Linked DNA regions of Homo sapiens: region 2 is linked to region 1. A link means that fine-mapping ties the variant in region 1 to the expression of a gene that starts in the linked region. Tissue or cell type: CD4 T cells. Region 1 holds a variant in brackets; the other region holds the start of a gene. All regions are shown on one strand. Distances are from middle to middle. Region 1 overlaps ADCY7 (adenylate cyclase 7). Region 2 holds the start of ADCY7 (adenylate cyclase 7).

Region 1 (5,362 bases):
AATCCCTGGCTTTCTGGGTGGGAGGGGGACCTACCTTAGGCCTCCGCCCGTTGGGGACGTGGGTCTCACCACTGCTCACGCTCTCACGGTGGTTGAGATGTGCAAAGGGCCGTGCCGCCCCCCAGGACTCGAGGTACCGGGTCATGCGCACTGACGCCCGCATCTTCAGGGCCGCGTCCCCCTTGGGCCTGGGGAGGTGTTGGCTGGGCGGGGGTGGCTGCTGGCTCTGCGGGCAGACATGGACATGGGCCTGTGCCACCTCCTCCCCTCTCGGCCCAGGAAGGGGCCGCCATCCCCATCCAGCTCTCCCTGAAGTGTGACGCCGCCCTGAGCCCGTGAAAAAATAAACAGCAAAGAAGTTGCTCAACCCGCAGTCCCCTTGGAGAGCGGCTGCCCTTGGGGACTAGCCAGCCAAAGCCTGGTGCACTCTGAGGCCAGGCCATATGGGGTCCCAGCTCGGTGCCCTGGCCTTTCCCCAGGCCGAGAAGAGGCTAGCAAGTACCCACCACTGTACCCAACCCCATACCCTGCTCTGCCTCCCCAGGGAGAGAGGCAGGGCTTGGGTCCCAAGCCCGAGGCCCCACTGCCCTTGAGGCTCCTTGGAACCAGAGAGTCCCTGGGGCCTGAGCACCCATCAGCTCCTCCCCAGGAGGCGCCTGGGAAAGCCACAGGCATCCTACCCTGCCCTCCCACGTGTGGCCGGCACGCATTCGCTCCTTCCTGTGAGAAGCAGCCAGGAGGAAGAGGGGTGCTAGCCGCCCCGAGAAATGGCCAAGCCAGAGGCCAGCCAACCCCCAGGGCAGCGATCCAGGGAGTTCCACTTGTGTGGCCCCCAACCGCAGATGGCACAGGGCCATGACCTGCCACGTGCCTGCGAGACCCAGCCTCATGCTGGACACTCAGTAGTTCAGCCAGGCCCTGAATGCACGGCCAGCCCTACCCGCCCCCACTCATGCCACAGACCTGAGACCCCCACCCCGATCCAAGAACACATGCCTGAGGCCTTCGCCAGTTGGGGTGGCCAGACAGGACTGGAAAAGGGACAGGGAAGAGAAAGACCCACAAGGCCACCAGAGATGAGCTTAAGCGGGCTCCAGGTCTGCTGAGTCTCTCCTTAGCCCCTGAAACATTCCTCTGCCTCCGGAAGTCCTGTCTCCTAGGGCCCCACAAACACCCCATGGACAAGCCTCCACAGCTACAAGCACTCGATAAGCCACAGCGCAACTTTCCTGGAAACCTCTCACCTCCTTTTGGGATAGAAACATTTTTAAGCCCTTAGCTGCATCTATCTGCCTAGCCACGGGAGCCACGTGGAATTCAGCCTCGGTGAGTGTCCCAGAGCAGGAAGAGCGCGCTGGCCCTGTGGTGAGCAACCTGGTGGGGGTGGATGCGTTTCTCTGTCCCCTCCTCCATTGTGACAACTCTGCCTACACAGCACCTAGCCACTCAAGTTCAAGGTCACTGGCACTTAGCAGAGAATCCAGACACCCCAGCCCCCTGAGAAACAAATAAAAAGCAGAAACAAAAATCAGATTCCTCAGTTCTGAGCAAACACATGCCTACTCGGAATGGGCATGGCATTGGTATGAGCCCCACGGGGGCAGCTGCAGCCACCATCCAGTCCACAGGAGCCCACCTTGCCCCAGCCAGGCCACACAGCAATGGCGTAAGGCAGAGCCCATAGAAGCCAGTGCAGAAAATCCACCTCCATGTCAAAAACAGGAGCTACAGACGAGCACCCTGCACACAGGAGGGATGTCCCCAAGGTAGGAAAAATGCAGGGTGCGCGACCATGGGGCCCGCCACTGCCACCTTAGCAAGAAGGGTGGGGGGACTCGCAGTTCACTCGGTGTCCGTGAAAATCCCTGTGGAGGGAATACAAGAAACTCACTGCACAGGTCCCCTCTGAGATGTGCCGGCTGGGGACAAGGAGTCTTTCTACAACACGCCCTTCACACCTTTTGAACTTTCAACTGCGTGGATAAATGAAGTTAAACAAAAAAGAGGGTGGGGTAGGGTGGGGTGGGGGGAAGGTGGGGCCGCCAAATAAATACAACTGTCCAGTTGAGTACTGCGTGCAACACTTATGCGAAACATGATTTACAGTTATCTGAAATTCAAGTCGGCCCAGGCAGCCTGCAGTTTTCCCTGCTCAACCTGGCAGCCTGCGGGGGTGGATTTTGGAGCCTCCTGGGTGAGGAGCTCTGCTTCACTCATTCAAGGGCTATCTGAGCACTAGCTTCGAGCCGGGCATCCATCTCAGCACGGGGTGGGGGGCTGCAGCCTGGAGAGGAGGAGCCCCCCGGCATGGCACTCATGCTGACAACAGACAAGGAAAATGGATAAACAAGCAAGGGCATTAGGGACGGAGGGAGGAGTGTTTTGAGTGCAGGGACCTGCGGGTGCCACCACCCTGGTAGTGGAAGGGCAGGAGGAGACCAGGTGGGGTGAGGGGGACAGGAGAGCAGGGGAAGGGGCTTGGAGGGGCGGGGCCAGGGCCGGGGTACAGGGCGAGGATCAGGGCCCTATTCTAGGAGGGTGGTGGAATGGGACACAGGTAC[C/A]GGCAGGGGTTTTCCCAGATGCTGGCTCAGTATGGATGGTGCAGCACTGGGGGTGCTGGGGGCAGAGTGAGGCCAGCAGATGTGTAGGGAGGCTCACAGGCCAGCCCTTGGTCCCCCAGGGTCTGGCAGTCGGGCCAGCCCCAAGGCATAGCGAGGACCAGAGTGAAAGGAGCCACTCGCTGGCTGGGCCGACATTCTTGAGCAAGCCTCATGGATGATTCACAGAGAAGTGGCCAGACGTGCCGGACTCCCTGAAGCAGGCCAGGGTCGGGCAGCAGACAGGCCAAGGCGGGCCCCACCTGGCCAGGGCAGTGGAACTGCCTCCTCCACCGTGGGGTCCTGGAGCCACCAGGGGACCTGCAGTCAGCACCCAGGACACTCAGAGGCTCCTGCCCAGTGGCTCCCAGGCCACTCCCTGCTTTCCTGAGTTTCATCCAAAGCTTGTTTTGAAAGTGTGTCTCTCGGAAATCTGGGAGATTAATAACCACCTCATGGAAAATAAACCAAGAGTGACGAGAATACATAGAATGCTGTGACGTGCCAGGCGCACTGTGAAGGCCTCGCTCGGATTAGCTCCTTCTGGTGAGGCAGGCGCTGTTTTCCCATCACATAGAAAAGAATGGAGGCCCAGGGAGTGGCTACTCGGTGCCTAGAATGTGCCTGGGAACAGGGAGCTCACTCCTGCCCAGGCAGGGCCCTTCCCCACCTCTCCCTCCACATGGGGGTTTCCTCCAAGGTGCGGGCCAGGCTCTCCAGGGCCCCTCCAGTCCCTCCGGGTCCCCCCCAGCTGCGGCCTCTGAGCCCTCGTACCCGGGGGTCGATGACCAGGTAGGTGCGGATGTTCATCTCCTTGAGGTAGGGGTCCCGCTGCTGCCCGTGCCCATCCTCCACCTCGTACGCCTTGTCCAGGTGCTTTAGCGTGGCCTCCGTGATGTGCACCCGGCTACGGGAGACCCAAGTCAGGCAGAGCCTTGGGGCCCAGAGAGGGCTGGCATCCACCCAGGGATGCACAGCAGGCAGGCCTGGGCCCCAGGCCAGCTTTTCTACATTCATCTCTCCCTCCACACCTGACCCCCACCCCCAACCGCAGAACCCTCCATCCACAGCCAGCCCCAGGCCTCTGTCCCTGCGGCTACCCAGCCCAGCCTCACCCGGGTACTCCGGCTGCCTCCATCCGGTTGGCCAGGGACACGTCGTGGGACCACACGTCATACTGCCACTTGCGCAGCCCGATGACCCCGCACAGCACATTCCCCGAGTGTATGCCCACACGCATGTTGATGTCCACGCCCGTGGCCTCCCGCACCTGCCTGGGGCAGAGTGGCCCAGTCACCCCAGCCCTGCCTAAGCCCTGGGACAGGCTGAAGCTCCCAGGTGTGGGGTGGGTACAGGGCAGCATGTGGGAACAGGGCAGGCGCTCAGCCCACGGGAGAGAATGTTCTCAGCCTGATGGGGCTGCCTCTTCAGGAAGAGCTGAGTGCCCCATCCCCAGGAGCATACAAGTAGGTGTGGCCACAGCTGACCTCAAGGACTAGGTAGGAGGGAGGAGGAATTCCAACTAGTCACTACAGCCCATGTTGATGGACCTAAAATACCATCACTGGGTGTTTTCCCTGCCCAGCAGCACCGGCTGGGTTTTAAAAGTTTACTGGGGGCCGGGCGTGGTGGCTCATGCCTGTAATCCCAGCACTGTGGGAGGCTGAGGCAGGCAGATCACCTGAGGTCAGGAGTTTTGAGACCACCCTGGCCAATATGGCAAAACCCTGACTCTACTAAAAATATAAAAATTAGCCGGGCATGGTAGCAGGCGCCTGTAGTCCCAGCTACTTGGGAGGCTGAGACAGGAGAATCGCTTGAACCCAGGAGGCAGAGGTTGTGGTGAACCGAGATACGCTCTGGGCAACACAGCGAGACTCCATCTCAAATAAATAAATAAATAAATAAAGTTTACTGGCGTCTACAGAGGGGGTCCAGGAACCACCCAAAACCTAGCATAGACAAGGAACACAGGGGCCCAGACCATGGGCACCTTCTATGCCCCCCCAATCCCTGGGAAGCAGGGGCCCTGGGAGTTGTTAGCACCACTGAGCACAGGAGCAGAGCCCCACGGGAGAGCTTCCTTGGGGCACAGGGGACGCCCAAGACAGGAACAGAGCCTGAGTCCCCATGACAAGCGGCACCACGTGTCCACCAACAAGGCTGGGCACTGACCAAGCCTTCCAGGGTCGGAACCAGAGGTGCACGAGGGCCTGTACAACCTCCGCCTGTTACAGGGCAGGGGCCAGCCTGAGGTCACACAGGCAGTGGTGCAGGCCAGGCCCCTCCAGCTCTGCCCAGGCTTCTTTCTGGCAACACCAGCCACCTATGGCAGGACTTCAGGAGAAGGACAGGCTGGAACACGGCCTGATATCCAGGACGGGCAGCCCCACCGGGCCCTGCTCTGCCCCACACTGGTCAGCCTGGCTGGGCCTGCCTGGCCCTCTCCCCATACAGCCCTCTCGGCAAATTCCTCCCACAGACCCCAGCTGCTCAGAGCCACAGGGGACCTAGAGGGGAGCGGGGGGTCTCCCCGCAGCCTCAGGACCAAGCCTGACTCCAGGATCTTCACTGGGGAGCAGGAAGCAGATGGAGCCTTGGAGTCGACCCCTGGGTCGGAAAGGTCCCCCGGCTGCCTACCCTGAAGCCTCCTGCTGTTGCTAAGACCCCATCCTTGAGGGGAGCGGAGCCCACCGCCCTGACCTCACATCACCCAGCTCTGAGCTCCGGAGATGCTTTCTGGGACTCAGAGTCACAGGCAGCAC
Region 2 (5,362 bases), 35 kb after region 1:
CCTGAGGACCGATCTGCTGGGTTATTCAGGATAGACAGCCCCTCTGGGCCCTGTCTCCTCTGTAAACTGGAGGTGAACGGCACCTACCATATGGAGCGGTGGAGGAGGTGGGGAATGGGTCAAATCAGTAGCTATAAATTGTAGAGTGGGGTGCATGTCCCCAGTGCAACCATCGAGTCGGACTTTTGTCTCTTTTGAAAAATTTATTTATTTTGAGACAGGGTCTCATTCCGTCACCCAGGCTGGATGGAGTGCAGTGGCACAGTCATGGCTCACTACAGCCTCCAACTCCTGGGCTCAAAGGATCCTCCTGCCTTAGCCTCCCAAGTAGCTGGGACTACAGGCACACGCCACCACACCCAGCTAATTTTTGTATTTTTTGTAGAGACGGGGTTTCGCCATGTTGCCCAGGCTGGTCTCGAACCCCTGGGCTCAAGTGATCCGCCCACCTTGGCCTCCCAAAGTGCTGGGATCTTTTCTCCTTTTGAGACTCTCCTGTGGCCTGTCCAGAGGCCACACTCCAGCCCAATTTCTACTTCCTGAGCTCTCCCTACACCAACCTCCATGCCCTCAAGCAAACCTCCCAGACCTACTCCTGGCAAAGATGTTCTGCAATACCACCTTCACCCTCATCACCCGGAAAACAGCTGCTAGTAAACAGCTGCTTCTTTCATGAAAACAGCACTAGAAGGCTGGGCGTCGGGCTCATGCTTGTAATCCCAGCACTTTAGAAGGCTGAGGCGGTAAGATTGCCTGAGCTCATGAGTTCAAGGTTGCAGTGAGCTATGACCACTCCACTGCACTCCAGCATGGGTGACAGAGTGAGATCCTGTCTTAAAAAAAGAAAAGAGGCTGGGGGTGGTGGCTCACACCTATAATCCCAGCACTTTGGGAGGTCGAGGTGGATGGATCATTTGAGGTCAGGAGTTTGAGACCAGCCTGGCCACCATGGTGAAACCCCGTCTTTACTTTACTAAAAATACAAAAATTAGCCAGGTGTAGTGGTGTGGTAACTGTAGTCCCAGCTACTCAGGAGGCTGAGGGAGGAGGACGGCTTAAGCCCAGGAGGCAAAGGTTACAGTGACCCAAGAGGGTCACTACTGCACTCCAGCCTGGGCAACAGACAGAGACTCCATCTCAAAAAATAATAATAAATAAAAATAAGAAAGAAAGAAAATACCACCGGAGACGCTACCTCCACAAAGCTCACACCTGCCCTTCTGAGGGCCACAGAATCTGGAACAATCTGAGAGCCTCCCCTCCCCCACACTCTGCACCAGGAGCTGCAGGTAAACCTTGGGAACCCAGGGCCTCTGGAGGTGGGAAGACAGACAACTGGGTGGGAAGCGAAGGCTGTGCAGCAAACGCCTTCCTGAGCTGCAGCCCCCTCAGCCTCCTGCACTTCCTGCAGGGCTGGCACTTGGCACTTCCTCTCAAATTGGCTGGCTTGTCACTTTTATGTCTCCTTTGGCCTCGTCTAAGACAATAATACAGTCATGATGTCACAATGGCAATGTCCTATTTACAGATTTTTTTTTCCCCAAGACAAATACTTAGATTTTAAACATGTCCTTCCACACACAGGCTAGAACCCCCTGTGATTCCCTGGGCAGCCCGGTCCTCACTCCGAGAAACACTGGTGTTGAGTCCACCCCTCACAGCCTCCATCTGCAAGATGGTGATGCTAGTGAAGGCCCACGGTCACATAGCCCTTCCAGACACATCCAGCCCACACTGGCTGCCCGTCCAGGCCTTGGACCCAGGGCCCCTGTCGTAGGTGGCTCGGCCTGGCCCCTACCTCCAGGCCCTTGGCTTCCCCCTCCCGGCCCTCCCTTCTCCTCTCCAGCAATGGCTGTCCAGGGAGGAAGCCCCCAGCCACAGATGTCCCTGCCCTTGACCCTGATGTGATGACACAGAGAAGAGGCAACTGCCTCACCCTCTGTACATACATGTTTAGATGAATGCATAGAAAGCTCCAGAAAGACCCGCTCCAGAAAGACCCACTCCAGATGGCCCATGCGGTCCCTGGGGGATAGAGGAGAGGCATTGCAGGGAAAGGGAAACCAGTCTGCTTTTTGGAGGCATCTTGGTTTCCTGACCCTCAGGCATGCACTCCTTTCAGAGGTTTTGTTTGTTTTTTGTTTTATAATTTCATAAAATTAGTTGAATTGGCCTTCCCTTGCCAATGTTTCCTTTCATTGAGAAAAGTCATGTGTGCTTGTAAATGTAAAATTACACCCTCGAGAAGGAGTGTGGACATTTGAGAGTCTGTGGTTCCTAGAATTCCAGATGGAACGGGCCACATGTACAACATTGTGGTCACAACCGCACTTTCTTGTCAGGCTGGGAAAAGCCAGTGACAAGTCGCCTCTGGTCCCCTGTTGAAGGGCCGCCTCTCCCAGCCATCTGCCCAGTAGGCTCACGGAGCCTCCTACTCCCCCAGCCCAGACCCTGCCCAGTGCACTCCCAGGCCAGGCTGCCGGGTGAGCTGCTTCCCACCCACTGTCCAGCCCCGTCCCCTGGGGCTCAAGCCACTAGGACTGGTGACACTCCATCCCCACACCCCACTTTTACCTGGCTCTCCTCCCCGGCCCCAGCAGCCGGCCAGGGTCTGCAGGGAGGTGGCCCGGCCCCCGCCTGCCCTTCCTCAGACGCGCCCAGGCTCACCCATCCGAAGGCTCCTTCCACGCTACCTAATGAGAGTGAGTCACATCTGGGACCCACCACTTCCTGCTCCGGCAGCGGCAGCAGCGGCGGCGGCGGCAGCAAGGCTAAGGCACAGCCCACAGCCCAGCCTCTCGGGGTGTGCAGGGCCCCCTCCCCCAGCCACAGTGCTGCTCTCCGCAGCCTGGGAGCTGCCAGGCCTGGGAGCTGTCGGGCTCCAATGACTTCATGGAAATTTGAAGCTTGAAGCTGGAACAATTTTGAAAAAATAATAATAAAACAAGCACCAAAAACCTCCATTAGAAGCCCCAAGACAACTGTTCAAAGTGGGGAGCAAATGCATCCTTAGTGAGCAATTAGCAATTAGCGGCCTGGCCTGAGCCTCCTGTGGGCTCTGACGCTCACAGACAGGCCCCCCGCGCCTTCCTGGGACTCAATTTCCCTATCTATGTAGTAAGGTGGCCCCGTCCACCTCTGAGAGGGGCCCAGGAGAGGTCAAAGATCTTCCAGCCCAGCCCACTGCCTCTCCATCTCACCTACGCTCCCATGCTGGGAGCAGGGCAGGGGCAGGCCCATCCTTGGGGCTCCTATTCCAAAATCAGAGTCCCTGGAGAGCCCCCAACATCCCTGGGCACCATGAGGCTGGGAATCAAACCCCAGCACCCCTTCTGCTATGCCAGGCCTCAGTTTCCCCACTGGGATCATGGGGCGCTCAGTGGCGAGGGAGCAGATCAGGAGAGGCTAAGAGGAGAGAGTGGAGACTCCCAAAACAGAGGGGGAGGCCTCCAGCCCGCTGGCCACAGCAGCACCTGGTCCTCAGGGAGCCCTTCTGAGCATGTGACTGGCATCCTGGGATTACGAGCTCCTCAAAGCAATGGTGTACCTCCTCCACCTCCCACATCCAGGGTCAGACACCCCTCTTCTGGTCTTCTAACCCCTGCACCTTCCTCCATCACAGCACCTCTGTGCTGTGACCACTGGTTGCTGGTCTGTCTTTCCTAGGTTATATCCTTGAGGAGGGCAGAGATGGGAGGGCAGCTGTAATATCAACAGCTGTGTCCCCAGCGTCCAGCCCCAGCTGGTCACAGAGTAGACATCCCACACATACTGATCAGGAGGAACTGAACATGTTAGGTGCTGTCTCTGTGCCAGGCCCCATGCAGGGAACTAGCAGGTGATCTAAGGTCTGCCATCTGGTGGAGACAGGCATAGGACTCACACAGGGTTCCAGGCTGCTCCAGAGGCCACAGGAGGGAGTGGGAGACCTCAGGGGATCCTCCCCATCAGGGTCGCCCTCCTATCAGCAAATGTCTCCCTAGCAAATGTCCCAGAGCAGAGAAGGAACAGACATCATCATCATCAAAAGAGGGGAAAGACAAGCCACTGACTAGGAGAAAGTCACATCCTATATGACTGACAAAAGACTCCTCCCTAGCATATATAAAGATCTCCCAGGCTTGGCATGGTGGCTCATGCCTGTAATCCCAGCACTTTGGGAGGCTAAGGTGGGCGGATCACCTGATGTCAGGAGTTTGAAACCAGCCTGGCTAACATGGCAAAATCCCGTTTCTACTAAAAGCACAAAAATTAGCCAGGCGTGGTGGCATGAGCCTGTAATCCCAGCTACTTGGGAGGCTGAGGCAGGAGAATCACTTGAACCTGGGAGGCAGAGGTTGCAGTGAGCCGAGATCACACCACTGCACTCCAGCCTGGGCAACAGAGTGAGACTCTGTCTCAGAAAAAAAAAAAAAAAAAAAGACCTCCCACAAACCAATAAGAAAAAGACAAATGGCCCAATTAAAAGATGAACAAGAGACTTACACAGGTACTTCAACAAAGAGGATGCCAAAATGACCAATAAGCACATGAAAAAGATACTCAACATCATTAGCCACCAGCAAATTAAAACCATATAGAGATTCCACTGTACCACTAGAATGGCTAAAATTAAAATGAAAATACCAAGTGTTGACAAGGAGGAGAAGCAGCTCTTCACTCTCATGTACTGCTAGTGGGAATGTAAAATGGAGCCACCATGATGAAAACTGCCTGGCAGTGTGGACAAAAGCAAACCATATGCTTCCCCAATGACTCAGCAATTCAATCTCAGGTATTTACCCAAAAGAAATGAGTACATGTGTCCACAAATGACTTCTATCCAAGTGTTCAGAGAAGCTTTCATCCTAACAGTCAAACTGCAAACCCAAACATCCTGCAATGAGTAAATGGATAAACAAATTTTCATATATTCACACAACAGAAAATTACTCAGCAGTAAAAAGGAACAGATCACTGCTAACACACAACATGAATGAATATCCAAGATGGCAAGGACAGTGAAAGACCCACCCACAAAAGACACATTCAGCACGTTTCCATTTATATGAAACTTCAGAAATGATGAAACTAATCTACAGTGACAGACAGCAAGACAGCGGTTGCCTCTAGGGAGGCCGCTGATTGGAAAGGGGCACACAGGAAACTTCTGGGGGCTGAGGAGGTTCTAAATCTCCCTGTGGGTGCTGGTTATACAGGCGAGTGCCTAAGTACACTCATTACCCTGTACATTGAAGGTTTGTGCACTTGCCTGTATGTAAATTACCCGTCCATTTTTAAATGGGTATTGAGGGATACCCGTTTGCGTATGCAGGAGGGCATGGTGCTGGATGCTCAGTAGATTCAGGAAAAAGAACAGATC

The links. PIP is the estimated chance that this variant, and not a neighbour inherited with it, causes the effect.
Region 2: it holds the start of ADCY7, and the variant in region 1 is fine-mapped to the expression of ADCY7 in CD4 T cells (Kasela 2017, PIP 0.91).

Annotation. Positions count from the first base shown.
Region 1 is chr16:50,299,224-50,304,585 of GRCh38, reverse strand. ADCY7 (adenylate cyclase 7) reads right to left here. Exons shown (of 26, transcript NM_001114.5): 9 at 3,713-3,871; 10 at 3,372-3,504; 11 at 35-226. Among named protein-coding and RNA genes, the nearest start is that of MIR6771, 9.3 kb to the right of the region's middle. The variant C/A (reference allele first, on the strand shown) is at 2,562.
Region 2 is chr16:50,263,893-50,269,254 of GRCh38, reverse strand. It overlaps ADCY7 (adenylate cyclase 7), which reads right to left and starts at 2,704. Exons shown (of 26, transcript NM_001114.5): 1 at 2,575-2,704. RefSeq lists enhancers at 2,932-3,021, 2,967-3,560, 4,628-4,807.